Linked DNA regions of Homo sapiens: region 2 is linked to region 1. The links come from fine-mapping of genetic effects on gene expression. A gene starts in region 1. The other region holds a variant in brackets. All regions are shown on one strand. Distances are between the middles of the regions. Region 1 holds the start of ANXA9 (annexin A9). Region 2 overlaps MRPS21 (mitochondrial ribosomal protein S21).

Region 1 (10,431 bases):
TTCAGAAGTAATTACTGTTGGAAGATGCAACATGGTTTTCCTAGAAAGCTGGTCTTAACTCCTAACGTGAACGAGTGGTGACTAAGATGTATTTGAGGGCTCCTATACAGGGAGAGCTGCAGCTTACTCCATGGAGAGGTACTTTTGTCAAATTTCTCACCTAGATGAAGTATTGCCTTTTTTATGCTGTTGCAATCAGAGCCTCTGACAGTAGCTTGTTTCCCCGTTTATCTGGTCAAGTACTCGTAGGAAGGAGTGCAACCCCCACTAATCCAGTTGGAGGGCCCATCCCTCATCTCAGGCCCTTTCTGGAGGGTAAGGAGGTAGAGGCTGTCCGACCCAACTGTTTGTTCTGCCTCTCTTTTCAGGGGGACCCGCAGCCCTGACACACCATGGGAAAGATGAGAGTGGTGGCCCCTAACCAGCTCCCAGGGTTTCTCTAGGCTTTTCTAAGCCCCAGGCCTGCCTGATCTCCCAGTTTCCAGCAACCCCTCCAGCTGTGTTTTTCTCCTCCCTCCCTTATTAGCATATCTTCCATTGTATCTTTCTTTCCTTTCTTTTTTTTTTTTTTCCTTTGGAGAGGAGGTCTCACTCTGTCACTGCAGCCTCGACCTTCCAGGCTCAAGCTATCCTCCACCTCAGCCTCCCAAGTAGCAGGGACCACAGGCGACGCCACCATGCCCGGCTAATTTTTGTATTTTTGAGATTTCACCATGTCGCTCACGCTGGTCGTGAACTCCTGAGCTCAAACCATCCACCCGCCTTGGCCTTTCAAAGTGCTGGGATTACAAGCATGAGCCACCTTGCATCCCAATTGTCTCTTTCTACCCCCTTGGAACTCTCCTCCTTCAGCCTTCTAATTCCAAAGTTCCCTCTTCCTTTCTTCAGTGCTCTCCCCAGAGTCCTTATCTGCTACACACCTACACACCTTTTTTCCAGCATAGTTCCAGGGCTCTTTGGGCCGCAGCTCACCTTCGGGTCTCTAACACTCTCCACACCTCCGTCCTATTCATCTTCCTTCTTTTAGTTCTGAATCCCTTTCTTGTGGTTTTCCTAAGTGCCAGGCTTTCCTGTAGTCCCTACCAGACTTTTCAAATGCTTCCTCAGGAGAACTGAAGACTGGTTAACTTTTTTTTCTTTTTTTTAAGATAGCAGTGGGGAGGGGAAGTTCTGGGGCAGAAGTTGGATAACCAGGGCCTGAGAAATAAAGATAAGAGGGTATATTCCTCCCCCAGGAGACAAAAGAGAAGGTGGATGGAGAAGGGGAAACTGGGCCTCAGCCAGCACCGGGATGATGCGACCAGCTTTGTCAGCACGCTTGGGGAGCATACACACCGCTTGCCTTGGCTGGACCGGAGACTGTGATCACCACCCTTCCAACCCATCCCCCAACACGCAGGCTGGCATGGCCACGCCCACAGTGCCCCAAGTGCTGCCTGCCTTGCAGTGACTCACTTCCTCTGTATGGGCTGCTGAACTGTCCCAAGGAGAGGACAGGCCATCTCCAGGCCTTCAGCCCCGAGTTTAGATATCTGGGCAGGCTTTGTGGATGGGCAAGCATACAGGGAGCCCAAATGTGGAAGGTAGGTTTTTTCAGGTCAGGTGGAACTGTTAACACTGAAGCCTATTTGGGTAAGAAGCAGAGCCTAGCTAGTACCTAATGGAGATTCAGGGGCCAGGAGTATCGGGGAGGAAACATTTCCTAACAGAGAGGTAAAATAGCCAAGAGGAGTTTCTATGTATTCTGAAATCAGGCAATGGAAAGTATTTGCAGAAAAGCAATGTAGGGACCAGGCGTGGTGGCTTATGCCTGTAATCCCAACACTTTGGGAGGCCGAGGTGGGTGGATCACCTGCGGTCAGGAGTTCAAGACCAGCCTGCCCAACATGGTGAAACCTCATCTCTACTAAAAATACAAAAGTTAGCTAGGCATGGTGGCACATGCCTGTAGTTCCAGCTACTTTGGAGGCTGAGGCAGGAGAATTGCTTGAACCTAGGAGGGTGAGGTTGCAGTGAGCCGAGATCATGCCACTGCCCTCCAGCCTGGCAACAGAGTGAGACTCCATCTCAAAAATAAATAAAAGGCTGGGTGCAGTGATTCATGCCTATAATTCCAGCACTTTGGGAGGCCGAGGTGGGCGGATAACCTGAGGTCAAGAGTTTGGGACCAGCCTGGCCAACATGGTGAAACCCTGTCTCTACTAAAAATACAAAAATTAGCTGGGTGTGGTGGTGGGCCCTGTAATCCCAGCTACTCGGGAGGCTGAGGAAGGAGAATCACTTGAACCTGGGAGGCAGAGGTTACAGTGAGCTGAGATCACACCACTGCACTCCAGCCTGGGTGACAGAGTAAGACTCGGTCTCAATAAATAAATAAATAAAAGCAATGTGGGACTTGGAGGCTGAAGAGGTGGACATGCATGAACAGTGGAGGCGGTGTATGTGGCTGCCTTTCCCCTGTATTCCACTGAGAGGGAGCCCAAATCTGCCTCGCCTGCATTGAGGGATGAAGAAAACACTGAGAGGCAGCTGAGAAACATGGATGCTAGTTCCAACTCCATGGCCTCGGGAAGTCACTCAGACTCCTTGAGTCAGTAATGAAAAGGTAGTAGATTAGAGGCTGGGCGCAGTGGCTCATGCCTGTAATCCCAACACTTTGGGAGGCCGAGGTGGGCGGATCACAAGGTCAGGAGTTCAAGACCAGCCTGGCCAACATGGTGAAACACTGTCTCTACTAAAAATACAAAAATTAGCTGGGCATGGTGGTGCATGCCTGTAATCCCAGCTACTCAGGAGGTTGAGGCAGGAGAATTGCTTGAACCAGGGAGTCGGAGGTTGCAATGAGCCGAGATCGCGCCATTGCACTCTAACCTGGGCAACAGAGTGAGACTCTGTCTCAAAAAAAAGAAAAGAAAAGGTGGTAGATTAGATCCTCTCTAAGATTTCCTCCAACTCTGCAATTCTAAAATGTACAACATGGGGAAGGAAGGTGATCAGTACAACTGTAAACAACTGCAATCCGGCCCTGAAGTTGAACAAAACAAAACCTAGGGAGAGGAATGAGTTTGTAGCAGGTTTCAATGCAGCGATTGTGAACGCATCACACACACACTCCTCACAGGCAAGGACTTCGCTTCTGCCATGTGACTGAGACTCTGTTGGACTTCTCCAAATTCAGAGTTCAGCCTGGCATGCCGGCCAGGAGCCCCTTGGAGAGATTCGGCGTGAGGAAACAGGAGGCCTCACGCTTCCTTCGGTTCTCCCTAAATCTGCTGGGCAGGTAGCCAGAAGAAACTCTGAAGGGTACAGAAAGCCGAGGGCCAGGGGGACCCCGGCTGCGGAGCTGCAGTACCGTGTTTACCCAGCCTAACTGCGGTCACCCAGTCTCCTGCATGTGTCTGAGGTCAGCCTCGGGGGCTCCCCTGAGTAGGTATCTACCTGAGGCTCTTCCCCTGATGCTACCTGCATACCAATTCCACCCAGGAACCTGGCGTCCTCAGGAGGCTGCACTTCCCAAGTGGGCTGAGACAGCCCCTTAATATGTGGGGCTGGAGCCAGAGACCTCAAGGGGCCACTAGGGGGCTCGAGACTCTCAGTGGCTGCTGACGCCCTCTTGTGGCCATTTTGGGGATTGGCCAGAAAAGTTTCAGAAGCGAGCCAAGATCGGAATTCTTAAGGAGGTAAGTAATAACAACAGTAACAGTTACCATATAACAATACTTATCGTTATATATTTGATAACATTGTGACATTTCTACTTAACAGCGCTGTGCCCAGAACTCTTCTAAGTGCTTTATATGCACTGTAGTTATTTAATTCTCACAACAACCTATAACATAAACACTATTACTTGTCTGTTGATGATGAGGAAACTGAGCACAGAATAGTTGCCCAAGGTCACACAGAAGACCAGAATCCCGACTCTGAGAAGTCTGGCTCCAGAAGCTTTGCTTTTAGCCACCACGCTGAGACTGAGTTCCATTTTGGGGTTGTCAGGTGAAATACAGGACACACTGTTAAACTATAATTTCAGATAAACAAAAAATAATAATTACAGGCGGTGGCTCACGCCTGTAATCCCAGCACTTTGGGAGTCCAAGGCAGGTGGATCACGAGGTCAGGAGTTCGAGACCAGCCTGGCCAACATGGTGAAACCCTATCTCTACTAAGAATACAAAAAATTAGCCAGGCATGATGGCAGGCGCCTATAATCCCAGCTACTCGGGAGGCGGAGGCAGGAGAATCGCTTGAACCCGGGAGGTGGAGCTTGCAGTGAGCCAACATAATGCCACTGCACTCCAGCCTGGGCAACAGAGAGAGACTCCGCCTCAAAAAAAAAAATGTTAGTATATTTAATGAAATATTTGGGTCATACTTGTACCAACAAATGATTCCTCATTTACGTGAAATTCTGATTAAGCTGCATGTCCTGTATATTTATTTATTTAATCTAATACCCCTACTTTACAGGGCACTTTTCTCTGCCACATGCAATTACACAGATTACTTTTTTTTTTTTTTTTTTTTTTTGAGACGGAGTCTCACTCTGTCGCCCAGGCTGTGGAGTGCAGTGGCGCCATCTCAGCTCACTGCAACCTCTGCCTCCCAGGTTCAAGTGATTCTCCTGCCTCAGCCTCCCGAGTAGCTGGGATTACAGGCATGCGCCGCCATGCCCGGCTAATTTTTTGTATTTTTAGTAGAGACGGGGTTTCACTGTGTAAGCCAAGGCTGGTCTCGATCTCCTGCCTCATGATCCACCCGCCTCGGCCTCACAAAGTGCTGGGATTACAGGCATGAGCCACCGTGCCTGGCCACATTACCTTATTTATTTATTTATTTATTTATTTATTTTTATGAGTTCAATAGTTTTTGGGGACAAGGTGGTGTTTGGTTACATGGATAAGTTCTTTAGTGGACACATTACTTCATTTAATCATCCCAGGAAACCTGTCCTCGGAGGCCCCAGCATGTCCCACAGCCTCCGTCTCTCTCAATCCTCCCATTTAGAGAGCTGAAAGGACTAGCGAAGCTTACAGAACATAGGTGGCAGAGCTGGATATTGAACCCTCATTCTCCAGTTCTGACACAGGTGCATGTTTTCCTTTTAACAGGAGAGAAAAGTGAGGAGCAGTGATTACCGCCACAGAAATATCCTTTCATGGCGTGTCCTCCGGCATGGTCTACTCAGTGTGGTGGAGCCACTGCAGGTCCCTCCTCCAGGGATGTAGGAATGCCAGTGAAGGCCTTCCTGAGTTGGGAGAGAGGCAGAGGAGTGAGTGGAGGCAGGGCTGTAGCTTCTGTGCCCCGCCCCTACCCAGGCTCTCCAGGGAGGCAGGAAAGAGGCTGTGTTTAGACCTGAGGGAGCCAGCTGTGAGGCTGGAGCAGTTGCTGCATGGCGGGGCGGGGGCTCCACAGGGCTGTTCACCTGCTGCTCTGTGCAGAGACAGCCTCAAGTCCAGCTGCTGGGGTTGCATCACCTGCAGCTAAAACAGCCACAGGGCCCAGGCTGCCAAAAGGCAACAGAAGCAATCTAAGAAACCAGGCAAGGGAGCCTCCCCCATCTCCCTGTTGCCTTTTGGGAGCATAGAGCTTCCCTCTGAAGGTAACACCCTTTGCATTTTTCTCTCTTGACTCTGTTCATCAACTTCCACTCCCAAATACTTGTGCCCTTCCTTCTCCACAGATATACACAATCCCTGGGCACTCTCCACCTAGGTCAGCTGGCTCTAGTAAGGCAGCAGTCAAGGGAGTTTCTGGGCTGGGACCCCCTCTGGGGTGCAGGCTGGGGTGCCCTGCTGGTATGTGCCCCAACAGGTTTTTCCCTATCAGCCTTGAAATCAGCCTGCAGCCTGTCTGACCTGCCCCCCAGGGAGCTGGAGCCAGAGGCAGAGCCAGGTCAGAAGCTGGGGCAGAGCCAGGTCAGAAGCTGGACTTTGAGACTAGGTCTCTGTGGTCCCACCTGGACCCACAGGGAAGGCAGTGCATAAAAGCCTCCTGTGTTTGAGGCTGAGCCGCTGAGAGGCTGAGTGGAGTTCACTCACATGGATTGAGGCCCAGTTCCTGGGAGAAGAGATGCTGGGCAGGAAGGTGTCTGCATGTGGGACTCTGTACAGCCCGGTCCTCTCCCACGTCTGGGAGGGGCCAGAGTCAGACAACTGCTGGGTTCGTCCCTAAGAGAGGTCATCTGACTGGCTGTTCAGCCTAGGCTGCACACACCCCCACTTTCCTCTACCAGGCCACACCGGAGGCAGTGCTCACACAGGCAAGCTACCAGGCCACAACAACGACACCCACCTCACCTCTGGCACCTCTGAGTAAGTACTGGGCCCACGGCCCCATGCCAGGAGGGCTTGTTGATTGCTTGGGGGAGGGAAAAATGAGTTTTCCTTTTCCAACATGAGAGTGCCTCCTTTCTGTCCAGGCATCCACGTACTTGCAAGAACTCTTGCTCACATCAGCTAAGAGATTGCACCTGCTGACCTAGAGATTCCGGCCTGTGCTCCTGTGCTGCTGAGCAGGTAGGCAGCTGTACAGGCAGGAATTGAGGGTTGCTTGTCAGCTGGGGCTGCCGGTGGGGGAAGATGCTATTTCGAGTTGTCTTCCACTCTGCGTGGTTAATCCTGCCACCTCACCTCAGCTCCCCTGCACTGCCCAGGAGACCCCAGCCAGGCCCAGGAAGGAGGGCCATAGACCTCAGAAGGGAGGCATCTACCGCGGACCAAGGCCTGAGGAGCTTTGGTGCTGACCCTGGCATCAGGGAGGGTTGGCGCCTGGTCCAGGAGCATTCCGCATCAATCCCCACTTCCTAAAGGAGTGGGGAGAGGTGGGGAAGGTGGGGGCTCCCCTCTTACCTCACCATTTCAGCTCCATTTCTGGCTCCAAGCCTAAGCAGGTTGATCTTTTTTTCTGCAGCAAGGAAAGGAACAGGTGACTGGAACCCAGGGTCCAGGGTCTCGGGGGGGTCATAAGGAGTCCCTGAAGGGCCAGGAAATTCAGCTCTGTGGGCTCCTGTTTCCTTCCCCAGGGCAACCAGTAGCACCATGTCTGTGACTGGCGGGAAGATGGCACCGTCCCTCACCCAGGAGATCCTCAGCCACCTGGGCCTGGCCAGCAAGGTAGGGGCTGTTGGGATTTTAGAGATCACTTTTAGTATCTCAGCTCGGGCTGTGAGAGGATGGGAGGCAGGAAAGTGGAGGACAGGCCCTGAGGTTATGCTGAGGAGGTGTAGGCAGCCTGGCCCTGGCCCTTGCCAACTACCCTGTGCTCCCACAGACTGCAGCGTGGGGGACCCTGGGCACCCTCAGGACCTTCTTGAACTTCAGCGTGGACAAGGATGCGCAGAGGCTACTGAGGGCCATTACTGGCCAAGGTGAGCCCCTTTCCCCCGGCACTTGAGACTGCCTTTTAGAGCCAATCTGTAGACCAAGGAGGAGCCAGGAAGGAGGAACTAGTGATGTTGGAGAAATGTTTGTGGAATGCCTTCATTCTTGTATGTCAGGCGCCACAGTAGGTGTGTCAAACCCATTCTCACAACACCCCTGTGAGGCAAGGCTTATTATTTCCATTTTCCAGATGAGGAAACTGGGGCTCAGGGAGATTAAGAGGCTTGCCCAAGGTCACTCAGCTCATGACGGAGGTGGTATTCTCATCTAGGTCAGCCGATCCCCCCAAGTCGTATTTTTTTTTAACCACCACACCAGGCCACCTTTGCCTTGGTCTGGGTCAGATTTGCATGCTGTTTTGACATTTTATTTGCAACTTCTTTTGAGATAAAATGGAAGTGGGGGTGATATAGCCCCTGCTCCTTTCCTTCCCAGCCCTCTCCTGGAGCGCCTTCCCTCCTCCAAGGAGTAGGAACATCCCACTATGTAAAGACCCTGCTCACAGCACAGCCCTCATCTCGGTTCAGGCGTGGACCGCAGTGCCATTGTGGACGTGCTGACCAACCGGAGCAGAGAGCAAAGGCAGCTCATCTCACGAAACTTCCAGGAGCGCACCCAACAGGTGAGGCCATGCTGACCTCCCACAGCAGTGGACTGGGGTGAGAAACCCCCTGGAGGACTCGAGAGACAGCAACAGCCGCTGAGGCCAGCCCCTGCTTCCTGGCTAAACAGGGCCTGAGATGAAAACCAGCCAAATCTTCCCAAACCTCCCCACACTTCTGGGGCCCTTCCCCTCACCCCCGTCCCTCTGCTGTGAGGACCATTTATTGTAGGACCTGATGAAGTCTCTACAGGCAGCACTTTCCGGCAACCTGGAGAGGATTGTGATGGCTCTGCTGCAGCCCACAGCCCAGTTTGACGCCCAGGAATTGAGGACAGCTCTGAAGGTAGCAGGAGGGGAGACTTGCTGGGGTGTCTGGGGAAGGGAGAAGGCTGTCAGCCTTGCTTTTGCAAGACGAGAGTCCCCCTCTCGTCGTCCCATATTGTTTCTTAGAAGGAGAAGCAGCCAGCGTCTGCCCCTCTGTCTGCCATCCTAATGACACGGCCAGTCTGAGAGTAGACTCCCAATTTCTTGTAGGCCTCAGATTCTGCTGTGGACGTGGCCATTGAAATTCTTGCCACTCGAACCCCACCCCAGCTGCAGGAGTGCCTGGCAGTCTACAAACACAGTAAGAATATAGAGGGAGGGGTCCCAGATGCTGGAGAAGGGGCTGTAGGACAGGCCACTCCTCTCCTGTACTCCCCATAGGTGAGCTATCTGGCAACCTGGCTGCCTAAGTTCTATTCCCTTGGGGTCTTTCCTCTTGCCCCCACCAGTGCCTCAGTCTCTCAGGGGAGAGACCCAGATGTGATCATTAAAAAAAGAGAAGCAGGCCAGGTACGGTGACTCATGCCTGTCACCCCAACACTTTGGGAGGCTGAGGTGGGCAGGTCACTTGAGCCCAGGAGTTCAAGACCAGTCACAGGCAATAAAGGAAAACCTCATCTGTGCTAAAAATTCAAAAAAACCAGCTGGTCATGGTGGTGTGCGCCTGTGGTCCCAGCTACTCAGGAGTTTGAGGTGGGAGGATCACCCCAGCTTGGGAAGTTGAGGCTGCAGTGAGCTGAGATCGTGCCACTGCCACTGCACACCAGCCTGGGTGACAGGAGTGAGAGCATGTCTCTCTCTCTCTCTCTCTCTCTCACACACACACACACACACACACACACACAAATAAAGAGAGAGAAGCAATGATTAACCATCTTAATCTGGAGCTCCAAGGCAGATTCCAAAGTGACAGTCCCAAAGGTACTCATGTCACCTTCCCAGCCCCTTGCCATCCCTGCCATCACACCACATTCCAAGCTGAACCCAGCCATGCTGCAGCCTGAGGAAAAGGTGGGAATCTGCCCTCTGAGTCATGGGTGTCACCTTTCATGTCCCTGATGGCTGGCCTTGCTTGGCTACAAGTGTCTCACCCACTAATTTGTGGCTTTTTCCCATCCTCATCTTACCACCCCTTCCCCCCACCCCTACCTCTTTTTCTTGCTTTCCCCAATTTTCCTTTGATGTCTAATCTTGGCCTATGTTCTTCTTTTGAGACAAGGTCTTGCCCTGTAGCCTAGGCTGTGCAGTGATGTCATCATGGCTCACTGCAGCCTTGACCCTTCTGGGCTCAATCAGTCCTCCCACCTCAGCCTCCTAAGTAGCTGGGACTACAGGTGTGCCACCACCATGCCCAGCTAAATTTTGTATTTTTTGTAGAGATGGGGTTTCGCTGTGTTGTCCAGGCTGGTCTCGAACTTCTGGGCTCAAGCCATCTCCTGCCTCAGCCTCTGAAAGTGCTGGGATTACAAGCATGAGCCACCGCCCTGGCCGTGGCCTATGTTCTTAATCCCTCTCCTACCTTCCTTCCTTCTTGCATCTGTTTCCCTTTTCTCTTTCTTTTTCTCCCTTTCCTGCTCTTTTCCTTCCTCATATCCCACCTCTCATATCATTTTTCCTTACCTCCAATGAGGGTGCCAGGTCCTAACCATCTTGTGTTATAATACGGGTTTCCCTAGCTCTTCTTCACTGCCTGGCCCCAACTCTAATAATGGTTGCCTCCTGCCCAGCAGGTTGGTGCTTGGTGATGAAGCCACTGCACACCTCACAACTTAGAGATGTTTTTAGAGTGGCCGTGATGGTACTTGTGCCTTACATCCTGGGAATTAGCAGCCATCAAGCTACTCCAAGCAGGGGCTAGCAGGGCTGGCAGGGTATAGCGGGTCAGGCATTTGGCAGGTCCTGGGGATATCTACACTAGGAAAACTCAGGAGGATTCAGAGAGCTCCTCACCCCACCCCAGATTTCCAGGTGGAGGCTGTGGATGACATCACATCTGAGACCAGTGGCATCTTGCAGGACCTGCTGTTGGCCCTGGCCAAGGTGAGGAGGACTGACCTGCAAGGAAGGGAGTCACGTTCACCAGGCAAGGAGACACGCTGGAGCAGGGAGCATTGCTGTCCT
Region 2 (11,733 bases), 680 kb before region 1:
AGGATTGCTTGTTGCCAAGAGTTCAAGACCAATCTGGTAAACATAGCAAGACCCCATTTCTAAAAATATTAAGAAGAAAGGGAAAAAAAGAAAGATGGGAAAGCTTACAAGTTTTCAGGAAAGATACAGCATAAGGAAAAATACATAAATGGAAACAAACTAGCTGGGGTGGAGGAGCTTTATAGCTTCATTGAAAATTTTTGAATGCCAGGCTAAGAGATGTAGAAGAGCCCTAGTAATACTTTTTTTTTTTTTTTTTTAAAACGGAGTCTTGCTCTGTTGCCAGGCTGGAGCGCAGTGGTGCAGTCTCGGCTCACTGCAGCCTCCGCCTCCTGGGTTCAATTGACTCTTCTGCCTCAGTCTCCTGAGTAGCTGGGACTACAGGTGCCCACCACCACGCCTGGCTGATTTTTGTATTTTTAGTAGAGAGGGTTTCACCACGTTAGCCAAGATGGTCTCAATCTCTTGACCTCGTGATCCACCCGCCTTGGCCTCCCAAAGTGCTGGGATTACAGGCATGAGCCACTGCATCCGGCCCAGCCCTAGTAGTACTTTACCACTGAATTCTCAAGCAAAAAGTTCTTAACCTTCCCTTCTCACCAGTTGTGTGGATTTTGACTTTCTGGTATGACTCACGCGTCATTTTCTTTCCCCAATGTGAAGTAACATTTGGAGAAACAAACGCTTGTTGAGTTGAATTATCAAAGAATTGTAAGGAAGGGGCTCCTGTAGTGCTAGCTGCTCCAGAGGCTGAGGCAAGAGGATTGCTTGAACCCAGGAGTTCAAGACTGTAGTGTGAGTGCACTCTTGTTGTGCCTGTGAATAACCACTCCACTCTAACCTAGGAAGCATAGTGAGACCATGTCTCTTAAAAAAAATGTAGGAAAGATATTGCATGGGCTGCATTAAGGCCTTTAATGTGGTAGCTTTATTTCACAAGTAAGGGAAGCCTTGGAAGATCAGATTATCTTTATTGGGTTATGCAGTTATTGAATGGTGGAGAGGAGCCTAAAGCACATCTTTTTAGTGCAATGTTCTTTAATAATTATTACTAGTCTTACTAGAAATGGAAAGACTTATGGTGGTTCATTTTCCAATTTAGAATCCTTGTCTTGTCATTTCAGCAGGTGTCGCTTTAAAAAAAAAACCAGAATCCTCATCTGATTGGGTTTAAATATTGGTAGGGTTCTTGAGGACTGAGAGGGCAAAGGAAAGGGAACCTAGTTCTTAGCAAAGCAGAGAGTTCTAGGTGTGGAAGGCTGGATGGCAGAAGACCACAGTGAGGAAAAAAATGCTGTCAGCCGGGCGCGGTGGCTCACGCCTGTAATCCCAGCACTTTGGGAGGCCAAGGCGGGCGGATCACGAGGTCAGGACATCGAGACCATCCTGGCTAACACGGTGAAACCCCGTCTCTACTAAAAATACAAAAGATTAGCCGGGCGTGGTGGCACACACCTGTAGTCCCAGCTACTGAGGAGGCTGAGACAGGAGAATCGCTTGAACCCGGGAGGAGGAGGTTGCAGTGAGCCGAGAGCGTGCCACTACACTCCAGCCTGGGCAACAGAGCGAGACTCTGTCTACAAAAAAAAAAAGAAAAAATGCTGTCAGAAGCTGTGTAAATGAGAAGCAGTTGCAGGCTCAGAATGGTTTCTATGTCTTTTAAAAGGATCTGGTCTTAGGGTCAGGCGTGGTGGCTCATGCCTGTAATCCCAGCACTTTGGGAGGTTCAGGCGGGTGGATCACCTGAGGTCAGGAGTTCAATACCAGCCTGGCCAACATAGCGAAACCCTGTCTCTACTAAAAATACAAAATTAGCCATATGTGGTGGCAGGCGCCTGTAATCTCAGCTACTTGGGAGGCTGAGGCAGGAGAATCACTTGAACCTGGGAAATAGAGGCTGCAGTGAGCCAGAATCGTGCCACTGCATTCCAGTCTGGGCCACAGAGTAAGACTCAAAAAAAAAAATCTGGTCTGGGGTCAGCCACATCACTTAATTCTATGTGCATAACAATTATATCCTTGGGCTGAAGCTGTTCCCTCTACATTGTCACCTATGCTGAGAGTAAAGATAAGTACCAGGTTGTAAGGTATCCTGTTTCATTTTTCTCTGTTTCTCCTCATTTCTAACTCTCCTATTTCATACCTTCTGGTGGCATGTCTGAGAAGTATATTATGTCTAATGACCTTTCTCTGGCCCTACTTTGCTATCTTGGAAGTACAAAATGAACTTTTTTTTTTTTGAGACAGAGTTTCACTCTTATTGCCCAAGCTGGAGTGCAATGGTGCCATCTCGGCTCACCGCAACCTCTGCCGCCCATGTTCAAGCGTTTCTCCTGCCTCAGCCTCCTGAGTAGCTGGGATTACAGGCATGCGCCACCAAGCCCAGCTAATTTTGTATTTTTACTAGAGATGGGGTTTCTCCAGGTTAGTCAGGCTGGTCTCTAACTCCCAACCTCACATGATCCACCCGCCTTGGCCTCCCAAAGTGCTGGGATTACAGGCTTGAGCCACTGCACCTGGCCTAAAATGAACGTCTTTATAGGTAACATCCAGACCCTGCAGTGAGTTAGCTAGGGAGATGAATGTTGAATTTGGGAAAAGGCATGTATTACGTGTAACTTCACTCTTTTTTTCTGACTTCTCCCTGTAAATCTTCTTCTGTATGATTTATTTTGGTAGATTTAGATAGGTCTTCTGGCCATGGTTGTTGAGATGTTTGTTATTGAAAGATCAAAGGATAGCTGTTGCTTAATGGTAAAACAAATTTCCAACAGGCTCAGTTTTAGTTCCCTTATTCCTAAAGTATAGATAACACAAAAGCAAGAATTTTGTTTTTAGAAAATTAGCTACTTTGACAAAAAACAACAAAATTTGTGGTACAGTATTATTTATTGAACCACTTTTTTTTTGAGACGGAGTCTCCCTCTGTCGCCCAGGCTGGAGCGCAGTGGCGCAATCTCTGCTCACTGTGACCTCCGCCTCCCGAGTTCAAGCGATTCTCCTGCCTCAGCCTCCCGAGTAGCTGGGACTACAGGCGCATGCCACTACCCCGGCTAATTTTTTGTATTTTTAGTAGAGACGGGGTTTCACCATGTTAGCCAGAATGGTCTCGATCTCCTGACCTCGTGATCTGCCCACCTCAGCCTCCCAAAGTGCTGGGATTACAGGCGTGAGCCACCATGCCCAGCTGAACCACTTCTTACAGTTGTATCAAGAGAGTAGCGGCTGGGTGCAGTGCCTCAGTCTTGTATTCTCAGCAATTTGGGAGGCTAAGAATGGTGGATCACTTGAGGCCAGGAGTTCGAGACTAGCCTGGCCAACATGGCGAAACCCCGTCTTTACTAAAAATACAAAAATTAGCCATGCATGGTGGCACAGGTCTGTAATCCCAGCTACTCCGTAGGCTGAGGCAGAAGAGCCGCTTGAACCTGGGAGGCAGAGACTGCAGTGATGCCCCATATCATATATGGAATGCATCCCCATTTACACCTAAAATTTGAAACAGAATCTGAGAAACAAAATATTTCTAATCTCCTTCCTGATCCTCTTCACTGATACCAGGTTTGCAGAAAATATAAGGCCAGCTCTTATCTTTTGAGAGAAGACTCTTATTTCTTTGTCTAAGATTGTCTATACCCCTTTTTATCTGCCTCTTTTAAAAATCCTTGTCCAGCCACTATATTTTTAATTTAATCAACACTCAGTTTTTGCTTTTCCTGTTTTTTTTTCTGTTTTTTGTTTGTTTGTTTGTTTGTTTGTTTGAGACGATGTCTCGCTCTTGTCCCCCAAGCTGGAGTGCAGTGGCATGATCTCGGCTCACTGCAACCTCCGCCTCCCAGGTTCAAGTGATTCTCCTGCCTCAGCCCCCCGTGTAGCTGGGATTACAGGCACTTGCCACCACGCCTGGCTAGTTTTGGTATTTTTAGTAGAGACGGGGTTTCACCATGTTGGCCAGGCTGGTCTCGAACTCCTGACCTCAGGTGATCCACCCGCCTCTGTCTCCCAAAGTGCTGGGATTACAGGTGTGAGCCACCACACCCAGCCCACATACTACTTTTATGGTTCTCTTTTTGTTGGTGACTGGCATTTTACACAAACCTATTTCCTGGGTCGAAGTGTTAATATTAGAGAGCCGGAGAGTGGTCAGTGTGACACCCTGTGGTTTCAACCCTGGCTGCCTATTAGGATCACCTAGGGAACGAACCATCAAGAAAACAAAACTAATGCCAGGGCCCAATCTGAGATGAATCAGAATCTCCAGGGGTTGCAACCTGGATGGCAGCATTTTAAAAAACATACCATGAGATTTCACCAGGATTGAAAATTATTATAATAGACTTGTAGCCTCCTGGCTGGGCACAGTGACTCATGCCTGTAATCCCAGCACTTTGGGAGGCTGAGGGGGGCGGATCATTTGAGGTTAGGAGTTCAAGACCAGCCTGGCCAACATGGTAAAACCCCGTCTCTACTAAAAATATAAAAATTAGCCGGGTATGATGGTGCATACCTGTAATCCCAGCTATTCGGGAGGCTGAGGCAGGAGAATCGCTTGAACCTGGGAGCTGGAGGTTGCAGTGAGCCGAGATCGCGCCACTGCACTCCAGCCTGGGTGACAAAGTGAGACCCTGTCTCAAAAAAAAAAAGGCTTGTAGCCTCCTTAAGGACAGAAACCTATGCTTTTTCATTTGTGTATCTCTTGGATTTACCAAAGTGTCTGGCACATCCAAAGCTCTCATTAAATGTCTACTTAATGAACATAAATGTTCCTTTATCTTTTTTGTCACTTATTTAATGTTTGTCAAACTTTTTTACTGAAGTGTCGTTAACAGCAGAGGAGAGTGAATGAACTATAGGGGTTCTGCTACTATAAGCAAACATGGAATTTCTTTGAAGCTTCCCTAAATTAAAATGTAAGGTGAACTTCGTATTCGTTGCCATTGCATCTGTTTTATGGGTAACACCCCCACTCCTTCGAGTTAAAATTGGTGCCTCCAGGCAGATGCATCAAATTTGTCCAGAAACTTGTATCCTTTGGCATTCTGTTAATTACCCTGGTTAAGAAGCACAGTATTACCTTTTCTTCAGGGATTAAAACACCAAAGTAGGAGTAGGATTTGGAAAAAAGCAATTTACATTGCTTAAAAAGAAAAGAATTATATTCTTTTCTTTTTAAGAAAGAAGAGGAGTGGTTAGAAAAATAAATTTGGCCAGGCGCGGTGGCTCACCCCTGTAAGCTCAGCACTTTGGGAGGCCGAGGCGGGTGGATCATCTGAGGTCAGGAGTTCAAGACCAGCCTGGCCAACATGATGAAACCCTG[T/A]CTCTACTAAAAAAAATACAAAAATTGGCCGGGCGCGGTGGCTCATGCCTGTAATCCCAGCACTTTGGGAGGCTGAGGGGGGCGGATCACGAGGTCAGGAGATCGAGACCATCCTGGCTAACACAGTGAAACCCCGTCTCTACTAAAAATACAAAAAATTAGCTGGGCGCCGTGGCGGGCGCCTATAGTCCCAGCTACTCGGGAGGCTGAGGCAGGAGAATGACGTGAACCCGGGAGGCGGAGCTTGCAGTGAGCCAAGATGGCGCCATTGCACTCCAACCTGGGGGACGAGAGCGAGACTTCGTCTCAAAAGAAAAAAAATTAGCCGGACATGGTGGCAGGTGCCTGTAATCCCAGCTACTCAGGAGGCTGAGGCAGGAGAATCGCTTGAACCCAGGAGGCGGAGGTTCCAGTGAGCCGAGATCGCGCCATTCATTGCACTCCAGCCTGGGGGACGAGAGCGAGACTTCGTCTCAAAAAAGGAAAAGAAATTCAAGTCCCATAGACTCAGAGTCCCATAAATTGTATTATAGCTTCGCGGGGCAGGGGGGAAATGAACAAATATTTCAGTCTTAGAATAATTTTCTTTTTCCTTTCTTTTTTTTTTAATACGGAGTCTCTCTCTGTTGCCCAGACTGCGTGGTCTCGCCTCACTGCAACCTCTGTCTCCCGGGTTCAAGTGATTCTCCTGCCTCAGCCTCCCGAGTAGCTGGGATTACAGGCACCTGCCACCACGTCCGGCTAATTTTTTGTAGTAGAGACGGGGTTTCACGATGTTGGCCAGGCTGGTCTCAAACTCCTGACCTCATGATTGGCCCGCCCGGCCTCCCAAAGCGCTGGGATTACAGGGGTGAGCCACCGTGCCCGGCCTCTTAGAATAATTTTCTAGGTAAGGACTTTCAAGCTTGCATACGTGAGCAGACTGATTTTGGAGTGATCCAATCTTCTGTTTTCCTGCTGCCTGTTAAACACATTTTCTGACTGATGCACTTTTCTGTTTCTTCTTTTTCTCTGCTTTTCCCAAATGTCCTCTCTCTAGCCACTTTTTCTGTATATCTTTCTCACACTCCAGGCCTCTCCTGATCTCTTTCAGCTTTCTCATAGCTGGTAGTTTAAAAATAATTTGCTTGTTCTGTGGTCTAATTACAACAATAGGTAGGAGAGCAAATGAGTCTAGAGGGAGGTGATTAAAGCTTTACCATGTTTGGAGTACAGAGAGAGTCTTACAAAGGAAATAGCCTACGTGTCTGTCCAGTGAGGCCACCACAAAATGCCTGTTATATAACTGGGGGCCCTCATTGGTGCCCCGGGATGAGAAGGTGGAGAGTGGGGGTTGCTAGGAAGCCCTGCATGATTGGCTGGCCCCCAAGCAAAGAAAGGTGAGTACACTGGAAGCATGCCCTGTTGACTCCTTTTACTCCTAGTGGGCTACCTTCTGGGTCCATTGAGTCCTTCTGCATACACGTCTGTCCTGACGTAGACTGGCTACACTGACATGTGAGTCTGCCACCCGCACCTCCCCCCGCTCCAGGCAGCTTGGCTCCTTTTACATAATCATTTGAATTTCACTAAAACTGGCAGCTGGTTTCTCCTTCAGTATTAGGTTGCCAGGCGCCCGAACTCCAGGCTGATCTGTTTACTCTAAAGCTCTTGATGTACTAGTCCTTGAACTACTTTTGGAAGCAGAAGGAAGCATCATTAGTAACACCCCCTCTATTCTTGTGTTTTACAAAGCTTTTCTTGCATCCTTTTCTGTTAGAGGTAAAGTTGAGTAGATACCTCTACTATAGGGACTCTGGGGCATTTGAAGATAATCTGTGCCTTTTTTAGTATGACTAGAACGTGTCGGGTAAGGGAGGGAATCCTCACCTGGCATCTTGGAATTTATTTGGTCTGTGTTTTGGAAGTAAGTAGTACATCCAGGGAATGCCATTTACCAACCCCCATCATTATATTCTTTCTTTTCCCTTCACCATTCTTATGTTCTTTTGTTATTCTTTTTCCTTGTCTTGCCCTTTTGCCTGACAGTACAGGCATTTCCTTGGTAAGATGATCACCTTTGTTTTAGAAGCCTTTTGGAACTCCAGTAGGGTTCCTTGAGTCATACTCAACCCCTTCCTCCTCTTGCAGTGTTGTTTCATCCTACTTTTAAACTGTCTTTGTCATTCCAATAGGTTCGTCTTCCTAGGTCATATTTACTCAGGGTCTCTGTCGTTTTTATATTCTCTCAAATCCAGTCTCCTTGTACTTTTTACATTATATATCCAATCTTTTTCTTTCAGGGGCTTTTTTCTATATTTTCTCCAATATACTACTTTCTAGTCCAAAAAGCAACCTTCATTAGACAGTATTAAACACAAAGTCTCAGCAGAAATAAATGTTTACATGTTTAGATCATTCTTTTATCCAAGTGTCCCTTATCGGCTTCCATTTCCTCTTTACTCTGATTGAAGAGTCTAGCCCAGCTCTTCACTCCCTCTTTTACCCATGGATACTGCAACAGTTTGTCTTCTGAAATGGGTGGTTTTTGTTTGAGAAGCAGAATACTGTTGTAGAGCACTTTACTAAAGACCTGAATTCTGTTTATAGTTCCATTTTGTGATCTTGGGCGGGTCAGCCTCTCTGAACTTCAGTTTCCTCATCTATAAAAAGAGGACATTATTTGCCTAAACAATTTCATAGGAGTGTAGTTAGGATGATGGATATAAAAATGCTATCTAAACTCTAATATGCCATCGTAGTAAAGGTAATACTATTGAGGCTTTCTGAGCTATATCCCCAATAACTGTATATATTGTAAGGTCACTTAATCCCTTGTGCTATGGACATTTATTAGTCATCTAGAGGACTCATTTTTGGCATACATTTCCTAGTTGTTCTTTGCCAAGTATTTTGTTAGGTGCAAAAGTGAATACAGATTTGATCTCTAACCTTAGAAAAGACACAACCCAATGAGGGGTTCAATGTAATACTGTTTGATCAGTGCTATAAAAGAGACATCAGCCGGGCGTGGTGGCTCACGCCTGCAATCCCAGCACTTTGGGAGGCCGAGGTGGGTGGATCACCTGAGGTCAGGAGTTTGAGACCAGCCTGGCCAACATGGTGAAACCCTGTCTCTACTAAAAATGCAAAAATTATCCAGGTGTGGTGGTACGCCCCTGTAATCCCAGCTACTCAGGAGGCTGAGGCGGGAGAATTGCTTGAACCTGAGAGGTTGAGGCTGCAGTGAGCCAAGATGGTGACACTGCACTCCAGCCTGGGCAACAGAGCGAGGCCCTGCCTACAAAAAAAAAAAAATGGTGCCATGGTGTTGGTTGTCCCTGGACCATCAGCAGCAATATCAGCTGGGAATTGTTAGAAATGCAAATTCTTGGCCCCTACTCTAGGCCTACAGAATCAGAAACTGTGGCACAGCAATCTGTGGTGTTCTTTGAAATAGGGTTTCACAGCCAAGCGCAGTGGCTCATGCCTGTAATCCCAGCACTTTGGGAGGCCAAGGCAGGCAGATCATGAGGTCAGAAGTTCAAGACCAGCCTGACCAATATGGTGAAACTCCGTCTCTACTAAAAATACAAAAATTAGCTGGGCGTGGTGGTGCGTGTCTGTAGTCCCAGCTACTCGGGAGCCTGAGGCAAGAGAATCTCTTGAACCTGGGAGGCGGAGGTTGCAGTGAGCCGAGATCGTGCCACTGCAACTCCTGCCTGGGCAACAGAGCGAGACTCTGTCTCAAAAAAAAAAAAAAGGCCGGTTGCGGTGGCTCATGCCTGTAATCCCAGCACTTTGGGAGGCTGAGGCGGGTGGATCACCTGAGGTCAGGAGTTCGAGACCAGCCTGCCAACATGGCGAAACCTTATGTCTACTAAAAATAACAAAAATTAGCTGGTGCTTGTAATTCCGGCTACTTGGGAAGCTGAGGCAGGAGAATCGCTTGAACCCAGAAGGCGGAGGTTGCAGTGAGCCAAGATTGCGCCATTGCACTCCAGCCTGGGCAACAAGTGCGCAACTCCGTCTCAAAAGAAAGAAAGAAATAGGGTCTTGCTTGCCCAGGCTGGAGTGCAGTGCCACAATCATGGCTCACTGCAGTCTCAACCTCCTGGGATAAAGCATTTCTCCCATTCTCCCATGTCAGCCTCCCAAGTAGCTGGGAGTGCAGGTGTGTGTGCCACCATGTCTGGTTAATTTTTATTTTTTGTGGAGATGGGGTTCTCACTATGTTGCTCAGGCTAGTGTCAAACTCCTGGGCTCAAGTGATCCTCCCAGCTCGGCCTCCCAAAGTCCTGGGATTACAGGTGTGAGCCACCATGGCCAGCCAGCAATCCCTGTTTTAACAAGCTTTCCAGATGACTACTGCATGCCAAAGTTTGATTTCACCTGAACTAGTTTACAGATGTGATAACAATTGATTTGGGCCTTTGAGGAACAAGTAGGATTTCATCAGGAAGAAAAAGAAAAGAATGATATTCCAAGTAAAGGGAACATCATGAGCAAAGAAAAAAACAAGTATGTAGGATGCTTGGAGAACTGCATATACTTAAGTGTGACTAGAGCATAGGCATTATAGGGCACGTGTTTTGTTTTTGTTTTTTGAGATGGAGTCTCCATCTTTTGCCCAGCTGGAGTGCAGTGCCTTGATCTCGGCTCATTGCAACCTCCACCTCCCAGGTTCAAGCTATTCTCCTGCCTCCGCTTCCCGAGTAGCTGGGATTACAGGTGGGCACCACCATGCCCAGCTAATTTTTGTATTTTTAGTAGAGATGGGGTTTCACCATGTTGGCCAGGCTTGTCTCGAACTCCTGACCTCAAGTGATCAGTAGGGCAGGTTATTAAAAGATATATATATAGGGGGCAATTGTTTGGGCTTTGAGCTTAGACTAGTAGTTCCAAAATCTGTCTGTACATTGGAATCACCTTGGAAACTGAAAAACCTGCTCATGTCCCTTTCCCTCTCCTTTGTGATTTAATTGGACTGGGTGTGGCCCAGGGTTCGGAATGTTTAAAAGATCCCTGGGCAGTTCTGATGTGCAGATGATTCTGGGAACTTTAGTGGCTTAGGCCACTCTGTATATTAGGAAAGATTTTTTAGCACCAGAGTGACATGATCTGATTTATGTTTTAGGGCAATAATTGGTGTAGGAAAAGAGAGTGGAAATAGGGCAACCTACTTATTCACATTTCAGATGAGTTGTTCTTTAGGATCCCTTCACAACCACTTTCTTGTTCTCAAGTTCAGGTTTAATGCCTCCTGTGAGTTTGTTTTTGTTTTGTTTTTCCTTGAGACAAGAGTCTGTTGCCCAGGCTGGAGTGCAGTGGCACCATCTCGGCTCACTACAGCCTCCACCCCGAGTTCAAGGGATTCTCCTGCCTCAGCCTACTGAGTACAGGTGCCCACCACTACGCCTGGCTAATTTTTGTATTTTTAGTAGAGGTGGGGTTTCACCATGTTGGCCAGCCTGGTCTTGAACTCCTGACCTCAAGTGATCTTTTTGAGATGGAGTTTCACTCTTGTTGCCCAGGCTGGAGTGCAGTGGCGCAACCTTGGCTTACTGCAATCTCCGCCCCCAGGGTTCAAGCAATTCTCCTGCCTCAGCCTTCCGAGTAGCTGGGATTACAGGCATACACCACCATGCCCGGCTAATTTTGTATTTTTAGTAGAGACAGGGTTTCTCCATGTTGGTCAGGCTGGTCTCAAACTCCTGACCTCAGGTGATCCGCCCACCTCGGCCTCCCACAGTGCTGGAATTACAGGTGTGAGCCACCAGCCTGACAGGATGGAACTTTAAGTAAGAGAATCACCTTAAGAATCACCCCTAGTGATTCTGTTCTTACTGAAAATGGCTCTCCCCAGTTGAGGTCTCTGAAATGCCCCATTAGTTGAGAATCATTGCTGTAGGGAGACATGTTCTTCAGGTACTGTATCATATCCCTCAGGTGTGTTGTGGTAGAGTAGATTTGAGAACATAACTTTGACTATAAACTCTCCAAGAGCAAGGGCCATGTAATTAATTGCTTTTTTATTTCCCCAATTTTTTTTTTTTGAGACAAGAGTCTCACTCTGTTGCCCAGGCTGGAGTGCAGTGGTGCAATCTCAGCTCACTGCAACCTCCACCTCCTAGGTTCAAACACTTCTCCTGCCTGCCTCCTGAGTAGCTGGGAGGGACTATAGGCGCCCGCCATCATGCCCAGCTAATTTTTGTATTTTTAGTAGAGACGGGGTTTCACCATATTGGTCAGGCTGGTCTCGAACTCCCGACCTCAGGTGATCCACCTGCCTCGGCTTCCCGAAGTGCTAGGATTACAGGCATGAGTCACTGTGCCCAGTCCTTTTTTTTTTTTTTTTTTTTTTCCTTTGAGTCAAGGTGTCACTCTGTTGTCCAGGCTGGAATGCAGTGGTAGGATCTCAGCTCACTGCAGCCATG

Evidence for each region.
Region 2: its variant is fine-mapped to the expression of ANXA9 in whole blood (TOPMed, PIP 0.98).

The regions. Positions count from the first base shown.
Region 1 is chr1:150,976,066-150,986,496 of GRCh38, forward strand. ANXA9 (annexin A9) reads left to right here and starts at 6,227. Exons shown (of 14, transcript NM_003568.3): 1 at 6,227-6,314; 2 at 6,422-6,518; 3 at 7,025-7,115; 4 at 7,273-7,369; 5 at 7,910-8,004; 6 at 8,216-8,329; 7 at 8,521-8,611; 8 at 10,271-10,350. The coding sequence starts at 7,041. LOC105371438 (a long non-coding RNA gene) reads right to left here and starts at 5,440. Exons shown (of 3, transcript XR_922135.3): 1 at 5,356-5,440; 2 at 5,139-5,248; 3 at 3,893-4,021. RefSeq lists a cis regulatory region at 780-1,693 and enhancers at 920-1,423, 1,424-1,925, 6,751-7,612.
Region 2 is chr1:150,295,711-150,307,443 of GRCh38, forward strand. All of the region lies in intron 2 of MRPS21 (mitochondrial ribosomal protein S21), which reads left to right. Among named protein-coding and RNA genes, the nearest start is that of MRPS21, 7.7 kb to the left of the region's middle. RefSeq lists an enhancer at 1,332-1,889. The variant T/A (reference allele first, on the strand shown) is at 5,318.